3 linked regions of the Homo sapiens genome follow. The gene in region 1 interacts genetically with each later gene. Each region holds a gene or a part of one and is shown in the gene's direction. Other genes may lie near its edges.

Region 1 (3,658 bases):
CCAGAACCTAGGTCTTCTGACTTTAGTTGAATAATTTTTTTCTACTGAACAATAAGATCTAAAGAGAATATTTTTTACTCATGGGTAGTATACAAATTAATTCAACCTGTGTAAACTTCTTGAAAGTTGTCAGGGAACTACTGTGTACTACTTGCTTTAATAATACAGCTTTTATAGAAATGGAAACCTAGCTTTCTCCTACGATGTGGGAGGAATGAGGATTAGAAGTCTGTTAAATAAATAGAATATACTTTACTTTTTACAGAAAAAGCTTTCTGTTGTTATTTAAAATACTCTTAATATTTGGCAGTTTGTAGCTCAGTCTTTTGTCTATTGTATTAGAAGAATTCCTATAAAATGAGAAGAACTTCATGTCAAAAGGATCTTGAAGAGGCATACCTGTACTTTTTAGTCTTCAACAAATCTTTTTAAATAGTTTTAAAATTGATTCTGAATTTTGATAGATATTTTCTTTCTGAAGTAGTATTCTCTACTTAGCACAGTAAAGGATATTTAGACTAGACTTGCATCTTAATTCTGTACTGGGGTAGTGATCGTAATAACTAGCCTTTGCTGAACTCTTCCTGTATGTACTTAAAGTGCAATATATCATGAATCCTCACAATAGCTTCATGTAATGGCTACTATTAATATTATATTCCTTTTCCTATTAAGAACACAGGCTCAGAGAGGCTGGTAACTTTCCCTGTGTCACACAGCTAGCAGATGGAGGACTAGAGATATGAACCACCAGACTTTCTATTTTATGTGTTTTAGCCTTCATGGTTTTTGCCGTATCTGCATACCACTTGTTTGTTTACTGTTTTATGAAATCACTGTATTTTTTTTTTTTTCCTGAGACGAAGTCTTGCTCTGTCACCCAGGCTGGAGTGCAGTGGCGTGATCTGGGTTCACAGCAACCTCCGCCTCCTGGGTTCAAGCAATTCTTCTGCCTCAGCCTCCTGAGTAGCTGGGATTACAGGCATGTGCCACCACCCCCGGCTAATTTTTATATTTTTAGTAGAGACGAAGTTTCACCATGTTGGTTAGGCTGGTCTCAAACTCCTGACCTTGTGATCCGCCTACCTCGGCCTCCCAAAGTGCTGGGATTACAGGCATGAGCCACTGCGCCTGGCCGAAATCACCGTATTTTTAAGATCATCTTCATTGTAAACAATACTGTGCATAAACTCAGAGTTTCAGTGTCTCAGTTTTTTCTAATATATATTAGCACAAATGTGTAAGTGTAAAAGTTTTCTTAAGTTCTTGGTGCCACCTAAAATCATCTCAAATACCAAATTTTGGGAGAACTTTCATTATTTATATATACATATATATATTTGCGATGGAGTTTCGCTCTTGTTGCCCCGGCTGGAGTGCAATGGCGCGATCTCAGCTCACCGCAGCCTCTGCCTCCGGGTTCAAGCGATTCTCCTTCCTCAGCCTCCTGAGTACCTGGGATTATAGGCATGCACCACCACGCCCAGCTAATTTTGTATTTTCAGTAGAGATGGGGTTTCTCCATGTTGGTCAGGCTGGTCTCGAACTTTTGACCTCTGGTGATTCGCCTGCCTCGGCCTCCCAAAGTGCTAGGATTACAGGCGTGAGCCACCGCGCCTGGCCTATATTGTATTTTTAAGGATAAACTTTTTTTTTTTTTTGAGACAGTGTCTTACTCTGTCACCCAGGCTAGAGTGCAGTGGCGTGATCTTGGCTCACTGCAACCTCCACCTCCCAGGCTCATGCAATTCTCCTGCCTCAGCCTGCTGAGTAACTGGGATTTTAGGCGCCACCACACCCAACTAATTTTTGTATTTTTAGTAGAGATGGGGTTTCACCATGTTGGCCAGGCCAGTCTAGAACTCGTGACCTCAAGTGATCTGCCCGCATCAGCCTCCCAAAGTTCTGGGATTACAGGCATGAGTCACTGTGCCCAGCCATAAGGATAAACTTTAAAATCGTGTCTTCCCTAGGAAATCACTAAACTTGCTCATGTTGCCATATTGCTAGTTCTGAAAGGCTAGTTTTATTTTGTTTTGTATGAAAGAATATCTGAAAAAGTAGAAAAGTTTGATATTAATGTTTCCCAAAATAATCATAGGTAGGCTCTTTTTATTCTTAACAAGAATTAGGAATAAAATTTTGAAGGTGTTGAAATTTATAGCCTAGCCAATTCAGTTACGGATTCTTTGTTTCATTGGAATGCAGCCTTTCAGTAGTCTATTGTCTGATTTAATTGACTGTTATCTGACAGGTCCTGGAGTTGTTAATTCACCGAGATGGGGAATTTCAAGAACTAATGAAATTGGCACTTAATCAGGGAAAAATTCATCATGAAATGCAAGTTTTAGAAAAAGAAGTAGAGAAGAGAGACAGTGATATTCAGCAGCTACAAAAACAGCTAAAGGAAGCAGAACAAATACTGGTAAGTTGACAGAGGTTGGTTCTTAAGGTTAAAAAGGATGTTGTTTAATCTGTTTCTGAAAAATCTGTTATCAATATTTTGAAGAGCAGAAAACTAGACTTTCCAAGTCTAAAGGTGATATCTTGTCACTCACCATTGCCAGTGGTTAAATGAAAGGCTATTGTCATTCTCTTTTTTACTTACTGTTTTCAAATAGTCTGCATTACTTGTGAGCCACATTTTCGATGCTTAAAGATTTTACAGTATTGAATTATAGAAATGGAAAGTTTTACTTTTATCCTGGTCTGATATAAATTTTAATTATCAGTAGTCTAAATCTCTCTTTTTTTTTTTTTGGTCTCTGATCCTTAGCATAAAAATCAGGGAAATTTTTCATTTTTTATATATTTTGAAATCAATAAAAATATATACACATTTTATAAATTGATTAAAATTGACATTAATTTAGTCATTCATCCTCATCTAGGTAGGATTTGGACATAGATCAAGGATCCTAGTTTTCCCTTTGCTGTTCTTGGCTACTATTTCAAAGAGGCAACTTATTTGCTATTATTTGCCCAGTTACTTCACTAAATACTAACTAATATAACATGATAGTATTGCAGAAATAGCTGAGCTTGATTCTCATGTCGACCAGACATTGCTGGCATCCTTACCACTGATTAATCTCTTAACAAATGTATTAAAATGAGCTCCAGTAACTAGAAGCCTGGGCAGTTCAGGGTAAATTAATCACCTCTACTAAGGAAACAACTCACTAGTAAATAGTTTTTAAAAATATATTAAAATCAGGCCGGGCATGGTGGCTAATGCCTGTAATCCCAGGGCTTTGGGAGGCCAACGCAGGTGGATCGCGAGGTCAGTCTGTGATTGAGACCAGTCTCAGTTCGAGACCAGTCTGGCCAACATAGTGAAACCCTGTCTCTATTACAAATACAAAAAATTAGCCAGGTGTGGTGGTGTGTGCCTGTAATTCCAGCTACTCAGGAGACTGAGGCAGGAGAATCGCGTGAACCTGGGAGGCATAGGTTGCAGTGAGCTGAGATTGCGCTATTGTATTCCAGCCCAGGCAACAGTGCAAGACTCTCAAAAAAAAAAAAAAAAAAAAAAATTAGCTGGGCACAGTGGCTCACACTTGTAATCCCAGCACTTTGGGAAGCCAAAGTGGGCAGATCACCTGAGGTCGGGAGTACAAGACTAGCCTAGTCAACATGGTGAAATCCATCTCTACTA
Region 2 (3,309 bases), on another chromosome or scaffold:
ATGCAGCCACTGTGGAAAACAGTACAGCAGCACTTCCTCCAGAAATGTAAAATAGAATGACCATAGGATCCAGCACTTCCACATCTGGGTATACACCCAAAAGAATTGAAAGCAGGGTCTGAAATATGTGCACACCTGTGTTCATGGCAGCATTATTCATAATACCCAAAACACGGGAGCAACCTAAGTATCCACTGACAGATGAATGGATAAGCAAAATGTGCCATATCCATACAATGGAATGTCATTCAGCCTTACGAAGGGAGGACATCATGCTGAGTGAAATAAGCCAGTCACAAAAAGACATATACTATATGACTCCACTTATATGAACTACTCAAAATAGTTAAATTTATAGAGACAGAAAGTAGAATAATGTTGACAGGGGCTAAGGGAAGCAGAATGAGAAGTTAATGTTTAATGGGTATAAGATTTCAGTTTTACAAAATGACAAGAGTTTTTGGAAATGGGTGGTGGGGATGTTTTTCACCACATTATGAATTTATTTAAAATCACTGAACTATGTATTTTTAAATGGCTAAGATGGTAAGCTTTATGTTATATACATTTTACCACAGTAAAATAACAATGGGAGAAAAATGTTACCCAGGGCAAGACATACAATTTACACCTTTTATTTTTTTCACTAGTAAAGAAGAAAAAAATGAGCCACTTTCTCTGCCTGAGTTAACCAAAAGGCTTACCGAGGCAAATCAGAGAATGGCGAAATTTCCTGAGAGCATTAAGGTAAGAGTTAAAGCAGTTCATTTGGTAAAGCATCACTTTTTGTGTTATCACTTGACTATACCACATTCTTATAAAGGTCAGCTACCTCTCTGTTCAGTTTCTAAAATCTCTACCCATTCATATGTGCTTAAGAATTTAGAATCCAGGCTGGGCGTGGTGGCTCACGCCTGTAATCCCAGCGCTTTGGGAGGCTGAGGCTGGCGGATCATGAGGTCAGGAGATCAAGACCATCCTGGCTAACATGGTGAAACCCCGTCTCTACTAAAAATACAAAATATTAGCCGGGCGTGGGGGCAGGTGCCTGTAGTCCCAGTTACTCGGGAGGCTGAGGCAGGAGAATAGCATGGAGGCAGGAGAATGGCGTGAACTCAGGAGGCGGAGCTTGCAGTGAGCCAAGATCACGCCACTGCACTCCAGCCTGGGCAACAGAGCGAGACTCTGTCTCAAAAAAAAAACAAAACAAAAAAAAAGAATTTAGAATCCAATTACTTTGGTTAGCTAGAATGTTTTGTGAGACTAGAATTATCGATCACACAAGTAATTTTATACCTCAATCTTCAGAGAAACCAAATAGATTTAATAGGTAAGAAGTAAAATTTAAATTGGTGCCATGTATTAGATAGCTTACAGATGGACAGGTCTTTTTGGCTGTGGGCCCAAATATTAATAGAAGCACCATTTTTAAGGGTGGATTTGCATAGGGCTGTAGAAAGAGATTGTGCCATTGAGAAGGACATCGCAGTAGCCATCCTAGTTTTGAGTGTCATTTCTCCTTGGAGTAACTGTTGAAGAGAAAGACAGGACATTGCCTTAGGAGACAGCTGGCTCAGCTGTGTCCAAGAAGTGTCTATAGATGAACCTGAGTGACTGGTGCCTTCTGTGCAGGTGTTTGTGGCTCTTCTGCAAATGCTTCCTTATTCATCCTCATGTCATCGTCTTTCAGGCCTGGCCCTTCCCAGATGTGCTGGAGTGCTGCCTCGTCCTGCTTCTCATCAGGTCCCACTTTCCTGGCTGTCTGGCCCAGGAAATGCAGCAGCAGGCCCAAGAGCTCCTTCAGAAATACGGCAACACGAAAACTTACAGAAGACACTGCCAGACCTTCTGTATGTGAATTTTCACACACCTTGAAGAAACTGCCAAATTGAAAATGTTTGACATCTTTCACCTCTGCAGTTATGCCTCACCAGACATTCACTCTGGTCCCTAGATGTTTTTGCAGTAATCCAAAAGAATACAAACAAGGATTAAGTTTGAATCAACCCTGCCTACCCATAGACAACGGTGGATCTGACTTTAGACTCAATTGTGGTCTCCTACTGGAGGGAAGATCATGAAAAGCCCACAGTAGTTATTCAGAACTAACACCTGCAGAGTGTTGGTCATCTCTACAGCCTTAGGCAGGTTTCACCCAAAGAGGAGAAACTTCTGTCGTCACCCAAAGTGTTACATGCTTAAAACACAAGCTACCTTTGTAAATACTTCATCTGATCAGAAGTGTGTCATGCTTGTTTGAGATGGAGTTGCTGCATTTTAGGACTATTGATACCTTTTTTTAATTGTTTTTATAATATTTAATTTGAAAGAGGAGACCCTTCTCTCTCTACTCTTTCATAGACTGAAGTTTGAATATGAAATAGGCCTTAACCATCATGTTGACTCTCCTGTCAGAATTTTAGGTTGGAAATTTGGTTTTATTCTTTCATGTAATTGCTTATTTGAACAGATCACTTACTAAAGCTTTAGAAGAAGTGATTCAAATGTGTGTTTTCCCTTCAGTTTTATAACAAATGGATTGATGGCAGTCAAATAGCTCAGGAATAAATTACTGTTTCAATGGTTCTTAAACTTTCTTGGATCATAGGATCCTTTTGAGAATCAGATTAAAGCCAAAGATACTCTTTGGAGAAAAATGCATATTCCTAATTTTGCATAGATGACCTTTGGATTATTGGACTCTGACTATTGGGACCCTAAATACTATTTAATTATAAATCTTTTTTTTCTCCTCCTTGGTTATTTAAACAGTTGAACAGTGTCAGGAACAGATGTTTCTGTAATGTCACAGTTGCTAGCATGGGAAAATCAGAGTCTGGCATGGGTGTAGGAAGGAACACTCCTTTCAGATAATTGAACTGTTTTCTCTAGGATTCATTGTGAAGGCTTTTCTGCTCACGTTTGTAGTTTATTTTTCAATTAATTCCTAGGATTGGAGCTGTTGGGACAGTGAGAATGAAATTCATTTACAGGAAGTCCCAGGAAGGAGAAAGTTTGAGGCAGTTTTCAAAGACGTGTATGTGCCTAGCATTAGAGTTTAATAAACTCACAAAGGGAAATACTGTAGAATTTAGATCCTCACAGTTCTTCATACAGTGAAGTGAACTTTAGGAAGACGATGCTTTGTTACCAGGGATGGAGAATCTTTCTTGATTGCAAAGACATAAATAGGCATGGCTAGGTAGAAAACCTAGCCTAGTTGGTAGGACACCAGTTCTACCAACTGCTAAAATGAACTTTACTTACAGAGGTGGAAAAAATATATACTCCCTTCCACTTGAGTAAAGA
Region 3 (3,658 bases), on another chromosome or scaffold:
GAGACTCCATCTCAAAAAAAAGAAAAAAGAAGGTCATTAGTGACTTATGTCAGTAGTTTTAATGGAATGTTTAGGTGGAAGCCAAATTGAAGACAGATGCTCTTCTTTGAATTTTTAACATGTCTTTTAGTCTTTTTCCAAATAGATTGTAAGTTTTTTTGAGTGTCGGGTCTAGACCATACAATTCTTTCTTTTTTTTTTTTTTTTATAAATCCAGCAGTAGTATCATCAGAAGGCCATACAATTCTTCTGTACTTCCTATTATCATTCTGATCACATTCTGGGCCTCTAATAAGTATTTATTGAATTGAATAACATTTACTTCATATTTTAGGTCTGTTAGATTAATTACATTTGGGACAGGTCTGGGGGCTGGAGGGACCAAAAAGAAGTTCTATATATCTAGAAGGCAAAGGTAATCTCTATATAAAGTAATGTGGTATGAAGTTGATCTGTAAAATCAGTAGGTTCTGTATACTAAAGTATTAATTGTTAAGTCATAGAAACAATTTCTCAAAAGATGCTATATTCATCTTCAACTATGCATTATTTCCAAGTTACTAATCTTATATTCTAGTTGAAGACTGGGATAGTTTCCAAGCTATTTTGGATCATACCTACAAAATGCATGTCAAATCAGAAGCCAGTCTCCATCCTGTTCTCATGTCAGAGGCACCGGTGAGATAAAGATTTTCTTTTTCACGTTTCTCTAGTTGTTTTTTTTTTTTCTTTTTTTTTTCCTTTAGTTTTCTACTCATTTGATGAACATTTTTCTTTAAAGAGGCATAGAAATTCATATTTTGAATTTGAAAATTAGGGAAAAGGATTAATTTTTTAACACTATTATAACTTTTATTTTACTATTCCAATAAATAAAATATCCAGAGAACAACAAAACACCCTAATGGATTCTTGTGGTTATTTATGTATTTCTAGGGATTTGTTTAACATTTTATTTCCTAGGACTGCTTCCCATTTTGAATTATGAATCATTTCTTGTGCCCCAAGGGCAGCGTATATCTACTTTTATTCAAGTTTCCAAGAAAGAATTGAGATGTTGAACAAGGGCTGGAAATTTCTGGACCAAAGTCTCTTGTGAAATACATTTGGTACATAGACAAAAAGGTCCCAGAAAGCAAGCATAATGGTCATAAATTATCAGTATCTTATTGTTACTAACTTACAGTATTCTTTTATGAATACCAACTATAAGTGGGAGAATTTGGTGGTCTAAAATTCATACTTAGGATTTGGATTACCATATTTACTCTTTAGATTTAATAATATGTTTATAAGAATCCTGGTTTCCTCATATGTGGAAAAGTCAGGAGCAATTTTATTATTAAAGAATTTTAATTCTTCTCTGATAGATTTATTAAATTTAATCTACATCTAAAGAAATAAATATTATAGAGGTTTTTTTATTTTTATGAGATATTATGAAAGATGATTTCCCATGGTATTTTATTCTGTTCTTAATGTTTTATATCTTTGTTAATATAGTGCTAGATTTTATCTGGAGATAAATCAACTTTTTAATTCTTAATAACTTGCATTTCTTTTTCCCCTCTTCTCAAGTGGAATACTAGAGCAAAGAGAGAGAAACTGACAGAGTTAATGTTTGAACACTACAACATCCCTGCCTTCTTCCTTTGCAAAACTGCAGTTTTGACAGCGTATCCTTGAAAGAGTAATACCTTTCCTCTTGAAGTATGTACGATACTAATGAATATGATAACTCTGGGAGAAGACATACGCCAATTATTGCTTGTTCCGAAGTTGTTTTTTTCCCTTTTCTCTTGCTTTTTAGCTATTCATCTTTTAGTATTTCTTGTTAGAACTGATGATACACCAGAAGGTATGAGGGAAATAAAATAACACTCAAATTCTGAGTGTTAAGACGTTTTTGTTTTTGTTTTTAAGAAGGGGCATGTGGATAGAAGGCAATGTTTTAACCAGTTGGCTTAGGTGAATTGAAAGATTGCCATTTTAAAATCTCCTTCCCTTCCAATATCATAGAAAACTGGAAATTGGCTGTAAATTCATTCTCCTTCAAATTTAGTCAGTCATCAAATCCTGCCTGTTCTTCCCTGCTATTTGCTTCTCTCTGTCCTACTGCCACAGCATTAGGTGGAAGCTATTTCCAGGATTACTGAAGCACGTCCTCTTGTCTGCCCATTCTTTACGCTGTTGCTCTAATAATCTTTCTATTTTTATTTATTTATTTATTTGGTAGAGATGGAGTTTCGCCATGTTGCCCAGGCTGCTCTCGAACTCCTGGACTCAAGCGATATGCTTGCCTCAGTCTCCCAAAGTGCTGGGATTACAGGCATGAGCCACCGTGCCCAGCCTCTAATAATCTTTCTAAAGTGCTAGTCTGCTTTAAGCCAGAATCGTCTTCTACATTTCTTCCTTTATTTTACTTTCAGACCGTGCTGAGGTACTTGCAGTTCTCTGACCTCGCTGTGTTCTCTTGCTTCTTGGTCTTCCCACATGCTCCTACTCTTGCCCATATTCCCTTCCCCAGATTTTACTATTGAATATCTCAGGAATAGGTTTCCCTTTTACATCACCATCTTCCCTGGGACATCCTGAGCTTTTCTTTTTACAGCTTTATTCATCATCTACTTCACTAAACAGGATAACCTTCAGGGAAAAGGCAGTTTTGGTGCACCATTGTGTGTCTACTGTGTTAAAGGAATTTTAGTGCCAGGTGAGCAGCCTCCCTCCTTCCTCCCTCCCTCCTTATTAAGCACCAGACTTAGTAGACACCTAATAGATGCTCAGTAAATATTTGATGAATGAGTGAATGTCCCTACTCCTAAACATCAGTTTAGTATATTCAGGTAGTATAGGCCATCTGCAGCACAGAACTGTGGAAAATGGGATCTGCCAATATTTACCAACTGTGGAATTCACCTGGAATAGTTTTCCCGCTCATTGAGTTGGAGGAGATAGGAACTGCCATATGGCTGCCAAACTGCTGAAACAGCTCTTTTTCAATGCTATGTGAGAATGGTTATAGTCCCTAGCTCAATTATCACAACCTCCCACTGTTCTTACCAAGTTTCTGTATATTTTGTTAAATAAATGCATCTCAGTTTGTTGTAAGCTCTTTGATCAGTCTCCAGAGACTTTTAGTGATTGTGTTAATTTTGACCAGCTTAATAGTAGCTGTTCCTAGGATAAAGGTTTCCCTGAGTGCCTGATACCTCCATTCTGGAATTCCTGCCTCTTACTATTTGTTTTTAAGCCAGAAATATTATTTTATACCAATTTTTATCCCTAGATTCACTGTAATACATTTTTAACTATAAGGTACATGTTTAAGAAATAGTTTCTGAAACATTATAAGAGCCTGCCCTTTACAATAAACATTATTTTAGCGGCCTTGATACTTTCTTTTCCTTAATGTTTTAAACTAGATTTGCTAATGGTCGTTCTACTGGGCTGATTTTGGACAGTGGAGCCACTCATACCACTGCAATTCCAGTCCACGATGGCTATGTCCTTCAACAAGGTAAATGTATTTAACCAGGATACACTGAGATGATTTTAGATGCCATGAGGATGCACATAATGAAATAAAATGATGAGTAGCACTATTAAAGCATATCAGTTTCTGAATAAGATTTTTTTTAAGTATGTTAAAAATCTT

What was found.
Region 2: changes in MED4 (region 1) and GEMIN5 together harm fitness more than expected from each alone (negative genetic interaction), as found in Homo sapiens cells (one large-scale study listed by BioGRID).
Region 3: changes in MED4 (region 1) and ACTL6A together harm fitness more than expected from each alone (negative genetic interaction), as found in Homo sapiens cells (one large-scale study listed by BioGRID).

The regions. Positions count from the first base shown.
Region 1 is NC_000013.11:48,085,049-48,088,706, reverse strand, and holds part of MED4 (mediator of RNA polymerase II transcription subunit 4), read left to right. Parts: intron 1-2,254; coding exon 2,255-2,425; intron 2,426-3,658. UniProt on the Homo sapiens protein: Component of the Mediator complex, a coactivator involved in the regulated transcription of nearly all RNA polymerase II-dependent genes.
Region 2 is NC_000005.10:154,886,759-154,890,067, reverse strand, and holds the end of GEMIN5 (gem-associated protein 5), read left to right. Parts: intron 1-650; coding exon 651-747; intron 748-1,690; coding exon 1,691-1,858; 3' UTR 1,859-2,657; downstream 2,658-3,309. UniProt on the Homo sapiens protein: The SMN complex catalyzes the assembly of small nuclear ribonucleoproteins (snRNPs), the building blocks of the spliceosome, and thereby plays an important role in the splicing of cellular pre-mRNAs.
Region 3 is NC_000003.12:179,572,792-179,576,449, forward strand, and holds part of ACTL6A (actin-like protein 6A), read left to right. Parts: intron 1-577; coding exon 578-678; intron 679-1,578; coding exon 1,579-1,676; intron 1,677-3,425; coding exon 3,426-3,520; intron 3,521-3,658.